Regions from separate parts of the Homo sapiens genome. Here region 2 is linked to region 1. The links come from fine-mapping of genetic effects on gene expression. A gene starts in region 1. The other region holds a variant in brackets. All regions are shown on one strand. Distances are between the middles of the regions. Region 1 holds the start of LINC02552 (long intergenic non-protein coding RNA 2552). Region 2 overlaps PDGFD (platelet derived growth factor D).

Region 1 (2,929 bases):
AGTTTCTGCAAACATTTAAAAAATCTATGTATTCTGACGAGTTGATGTCTTGTGATGGTTTTACAAGAAGAATCAAATATAAATATCATGTTGTAAAAGATTAATATGCATGCATCTGCTTTAAATAGAACAAGGCTAAAGAACATTTTGTTCTTGTTACTGCTTCTCAATAAGTTTGGTAGTTCAGTTTAACTCAGGTAAGCTTTCTAAATGTCTAGCATCTTGTCCAAGCTCATAACAAAGATGTTCAAATGCCTTGGCACCCTCCTATTATTATTCCTTCCTGCTCTCCTCATAACCTTTTATTTTCTCATTTTTCATTTAACCATTCCTGGACCTCACTCTCATCTTGCAATATCTAATAAGCCTTTACTAAGGACTGAACATGTGAGGGCCAGATTTGTGAACTGGACTTTTCTCTCTGTAGATTTTTCAATTAGGTTTTCACAATGCCCTAGTTTCACTGAGTCAGTAAAACTCCCAGATGTTTCCATTCTTTATGTATCTCTCCTTGTATCCCTCATCTCTGTCATAATTTTAGAGACCCTCTTGACATTTAAAAAATTTGGAAACAACAGTTTCTTATTTCTGCCTAAGAAGACTTAAGATATTTCTGTAAAGATTTGGTTGGACACATATAGACATTTATTCCAAATTAAATCAGTGGTCTTCTTCAGATTGAGTTCCAAGCTGTAAACTTCAAAGGATAAGTTCTGCTTTACTAACTGTAATGCCAAACCAATTATTTTATAAAAACAATTAAATTGTCATGAACATAAGATTTCATATCCTGAAAGAATAGGAATAAGTTCTATTTTCACAATTAGTTTTCTATGTATAGTCCTCAACCACAATGCCTGTGAACCACCATCCTGGGAAATAAACTTTTCTTGAGATCTCAAAGCAAATGAAGACAAGTAACCAGCATGGCACAAATGCTTCTCTGCTACTACGTGGATTCTTTTATAGACACTGATTATATATTAAGATATTAATTTTATCCATTTACACTCATCAAAAAAGAAATATATGGTCCACATACTTAAATTCAACTTCTTTCTTAGAGGCAATGGACTAAGTACAATCACAAGCAATAGACAAACATCATAACTTTAATTTTTGGCTGTAAAAATGGAATAAAAACAGTAATTGTATTCATCATCGCTTGATGAAGTCTTTAAAATGTTACTTTTATTCTAGGAAGAATGTAGGCAACCTCTAAAGGGTTGATGTGGCAAGAAAGACACTGATATTTTTTCTGGGAAAAAAATACCTTGGCTCTGAACGAAAAAGAATATTGCTGAAATTATAGTTAGGAGCCTAGTTCTCCTATTGTTAGAGCTCTTTTAGGACATTTTATGATATTTTCTACAAGCACAGGACTGTGGCTATTTAGCTTGGTTTCTATTATGCCTTTCTTGGCATCATGTAGGATAACTAGCACATCTTATAGGACACCAGTGAAAGACAAAATAGACAACACAAAAATCGTATGGCATTCCTCAAACTGTTTTATGTGAAAAAGAAAGGCTGTCTTATACTATTCAAATCCCTAGACGAATATGTCAAAATAAGAGTACGAGAGGAAGGGGTTATTTCAAGGATATCCCACATATAGACAACATGGTGCATTGTGACATCGTTATATAAATATTAATAGTGCCAGAATACTAATCCCTTCATCGGGGAGGAAATATTCTAAATTCACTTACCTCTTGCAGCACTTTCCTACATAGTACTGTAGACACAGCCCATTGGCATCCTAGAGATGGCATTCTGAAGAGAAAGCAGGATCTCAACTCCTCTCAAGGTGTTCCTCCCTCCCTTGAAGGTCAGGATGTCTTGTGCTGGCACATCCTTTGGTGGGTCAGTAGATGGCAGTGTGTCTGAATCTAGTATGTATGGTAGGGGAAAGCTTTTTAGCATTTCCCAAGAAAATGAAGGTTTTGAAAGCTGTGAGGCAGCATGGGGCCTAGTGCATGGGCCAGAAGACTTGATCTTTATTTCTGGCTCAACTCCTGAATACATTTACTTGAGTAAATGGACACCAGCCACTTAACTTTTGTGTTCTTTGCTTTCTTGAACTTGAAATTAGACAAAATACTCTGCCTCTTCCCATCTCCCTCACAAGGACCCTGTGAGTTTAATCAGACTTCAGATTAGTTTCCGTTCTTTGAAGAAAAGACTCCTTATGAATTTGCTATGCTATTTATAATGTCAGTGGCAAAATTGATCTGGGTTGTTCTTCTGGGACTTGAAGTAAATAAACACAGAGGCATTTGGCAAGAAGGATCTTCTGTATTTCTGTGCCATAAAATGTTGGTGTATTTTGGTTTTAAGTAGCAGCACTGGATCTCAGGATGCAAAATTATTCTTGTTACTTGGAATTAAAATAACTTCCTCCATTCCATGGAACTTGACAATTACGGAAGGAAGCCAATAGGCCTCTGGCACCTTCCCAATTTAAATTTAAACTGTTCACTGCAAGTACAGATTCAATCAGATACAATCATTTTCACTTTTCCCTGCTATTAAACATAAGAATTTTCACTTCAGCATTTTACTACAAAGGTGGCACTCTGATAAATGTTAAATGAAATGGTAAGTAGGAAATACCATTGAAGGGTTGAAAGATGATTCTTTTTCCCAACAAGATCCAGCTGTGCATGAATTCACTGGAAGTTAGAATAGTTAGAATCCTCAACCAAAACATACCTTCAGCTGCATGGCACCAAAATGGGTCATGACAAGATCATGTTGGGGCAAAACAAACTTTAACATCTCACCTGTCAACCTGGCTCTGGTCACGATCAAAGCTAAGCTTCTTTGAAGAAGCCTTGCTACTTTGAGGCTGGTAACAAGGATCAAAAAGGGATACAATAAATAATACTATTTCTGGACAGGTAGATTCTGATAGGGAGGTCTAGCG
Region 2 (2,929 bases), 590 kb before region 1:
TGGCATGCACCTGCAGTACCAGTGACTTGGGGAGCTGAGGCTGGAGGACTGCTTAAGCTCAGGAGTTTGAGGCTATAGTGAGCTATGACTACACCACTGCACTCTAGCTTGAATGACAGAGTGAGATCCTCTCTCCAAACAGACAAACAAACAAACAAACAAAAGATAAACATGCTTTCTTGTGGGACCTCCTACGGTAATCTAGAATCTTTTTTTCAGATGAGTTAGAAGTAGCCTTTAATAAAGAATAATACATACTAGCATTTAATACATCCTGAGAAAGATGGGATTGTGTGTGCCTACATTGCTAAAAGCAACCAATTTGTGAAGCCAAATAGGCATCTTCGAGGTCTACTGTGGTTTATGCTACAAAATTGGTGAGCTTTATGGAAAAAATGACTAACAATATACTGGCATCTGTCTGGCTTCCCTGGGAGCCCATATATTAATAATAATCAAATAGTCTCTCACATGATCAGCAGAAAAGAAATTTGAAGTTATATTCTGGGACAAGACCCAAAGTAATTCCTCACTCTATCAGCATTTATTGAGATTTTACAGAGTGCCTGTTGGGAATTAGGAGCTGCATTTAGATGGTGAATAAATTCATGCTTTCATCCTAAGTATGATCCCACTAGGCAGAATGGTCAAGTTCTCAATTCCTCTGTTGCTGTTATTTTTGCAAAGGAAAAGATAGAACTTACTATTCCCGTCATTTGAAGGCTTCAAAGATATTGCTGGTGAATCGCTTCCTCCAAACTCTTAATGTGCTACTTAAAAAAATTAATTCATAAACCAAGAATACTTGCTTTTAAATCTTACTAGATTTTATTCTGAAGCACACTCAATAAAAATCTAAGTTTCAAATTTAGCTAGAGTTAGTAATCTTCTGTGAGATTGCTACAAATGACATGCTATGAGAAGCCAGCAATTGAAACAAGATTCTCTTTTCTTCTTAGATTGACAGGGTACTGCTTGAAAAAGAAATGCAGATTTTGTTTATTCTCAAGGGGTCTCAGGTGTGAACGAAGCTACATTTTAAATTAATCTGAGAAAAAAGACCAATTTTAGAGGCAAGAAGAACTACAGGTCATCTTTCTTGGTATTTCAGAAGAAAAAAGAAAAATAAACACAGCATTACCTTTGCATCTGGAATACAAAAAATGATTTTAAAGCAAATGTGCACATAGGAAAATCATCTATTTAACTTTATCCTTAAAGAAAACAGTACATTCAAAAGCATGATTTTCTAGCCTACATATGTCTTTACATTAGATCTAGTAACTATGTACTGAATGAAATGGGTTTTAATAAGTTGAAAACTGAATAAATTAAAAAGCACTAGAGTATTAGTATGCACTGAACTCCAGAATGGCATATTTCACAAAGTTACAATATCATGTGAGAGTTTTGCATGGTTGTCCAATTTAGCCATTCACCCATTTTCCATTTCTATTTTCATTTTTGGTTAAAAACAGAGACACAGACAGTCCCTTCATGCATATAAAGAGCTCACGTG[G/A]AAACAACATTGAATGACAGCTGGTTTTTACTATCAATTTCATGTTTGTGCTACAGAGTCCAAAACCCCAACAGAAACACATTCTCACAATTAATAAATTTTAAATAGTAGTAAGCTCTCAAAATCTACTTGTTGAATGAATCCCTCTGAAATTTTACACATAGGCAGAGGTCTTTTTATTTGCACAGTATCACATGCTTAATGAATCTGCTGGTCTTATAAAAGCTAATTTTGGCTGCAAATTTTACAGATGACCAAACTAAAATTGACTGAGACAATAAGGAAAAGGTGTCATCTCTCACAGGAAGTCAGGAGGTAGATACTTTCAGGTTTGATTAATTCATGGCTTTGCATGGTAGTCATGGGTTTTTCCACCTTTCTGTTCTGCCATCCTGAATGTGTTGGCTGCTCTCCTTAAAATGTGACAGCAGTTTCAGCTATCTCTCCCTCGCAGGGTTGGATTCAAGGCCAAAGAAAAGGCCTTTCTTGACATATTTCTAAATATCTTTTTAAGAAAGCGGAGCCTTTCTCAAATCCCCAAGCAAGCTTTCCCTCTGTCTCACTGGGCAGAATCTGGGCATATTCTCAGGCCTATGCCAGTCATGGCAAGGGGAACAGACTTACCAAGACTGGCTTGGACCCACACAAAGTTCTCCCCGAGCTGAGGCCCATGTCCACCCATCAGGGTAAAAGTAAGAAATAAGGGGCAAGAGAGAAGTTGGAGTGGCAAACAATGAGCAGTAATTAGCAACTACTGGGTATGTCTGTGTTTATATCAAGCTTTAAAAGGCCCTTGAAATATGCATTCAACCGATATTTCCTGAGTGTACGAATGCTACTTTAACACGGAAAGGGCACCATGGCCACTGTTCGAATGAAAACATTAATACTACACGGTTGTTGCTCTGAACAAGGTGGTTATAATCTGTTTGGTGTAAAGGTGGGATTGGCAGAAAAATCTTTTTTTCCACAATTTGCCATGTAGCACTATTTAAGAAATGTTGGTCACCTTGAAGCAGGTTTTGGGAAGAAATCTCTGACTTTTTCAGCCATGAAATATTTCTCTGCTATAGTCTGAATGTTTGTGTCCCCTCCAAATTCACATGTTGAAATTCTAACCCTCGAGGTGATGGTATTAGGAGGTGAGGCCTTTTGGGAGTGATTAGATCACAAGGCAGAGCCCTCATGAATGAGATTACGGATTTATAAAACAGGCTCCAGAGAGATTCCTAAACTGTCTACCATGTGAGGACATAGAGAGAAGGTGCCATCTATACATCAGGTAACAGGCTTTACCAGACACCCAATGTGCTGGTGTCCTGATTTTGAACTTCCCAGCCTGTAGAAATGTGAGAAATAAATTTCTGTTGCTTAAGCCACCTGGTGTGCGGTATTTTATTATGGCAGCTT

The links. PIP is the estimated chance that this variant, and not a neighbour inherited with it, causes the effect. A credible set is the group of variants that fine-mapping cannot tell apart.
Region 2: its variant is the best candidate, but not a certain one, in a credible set for the expression of LINC02552 in substantia nigra (GTEx, PIP 0.56).

Annotation. Positions count from the first base shown.
Region 1 is chr11:104,607,525-104,610,453 of GRCh38, forward strand. LINC02552 (long intergenic non-protein coding RNA 2552) reads right to left here and starts at 1,778. Exons shown (of 4, transcript NR_120585.1): 1 at 1,713-1,778.
Region 2 is chr11:104,014,361-104,017,289 of GRCh38, forward strand. The region is part of intron 1 of PDGFD (platelet derived growth factor D); the gene reads right to left. Among named protein-coding and RNA genes, the nearest start is that of DDI1, 21 kb to the right of the region's middle. The variant G/A (reference allele first, on the strand shown) is at 1,520.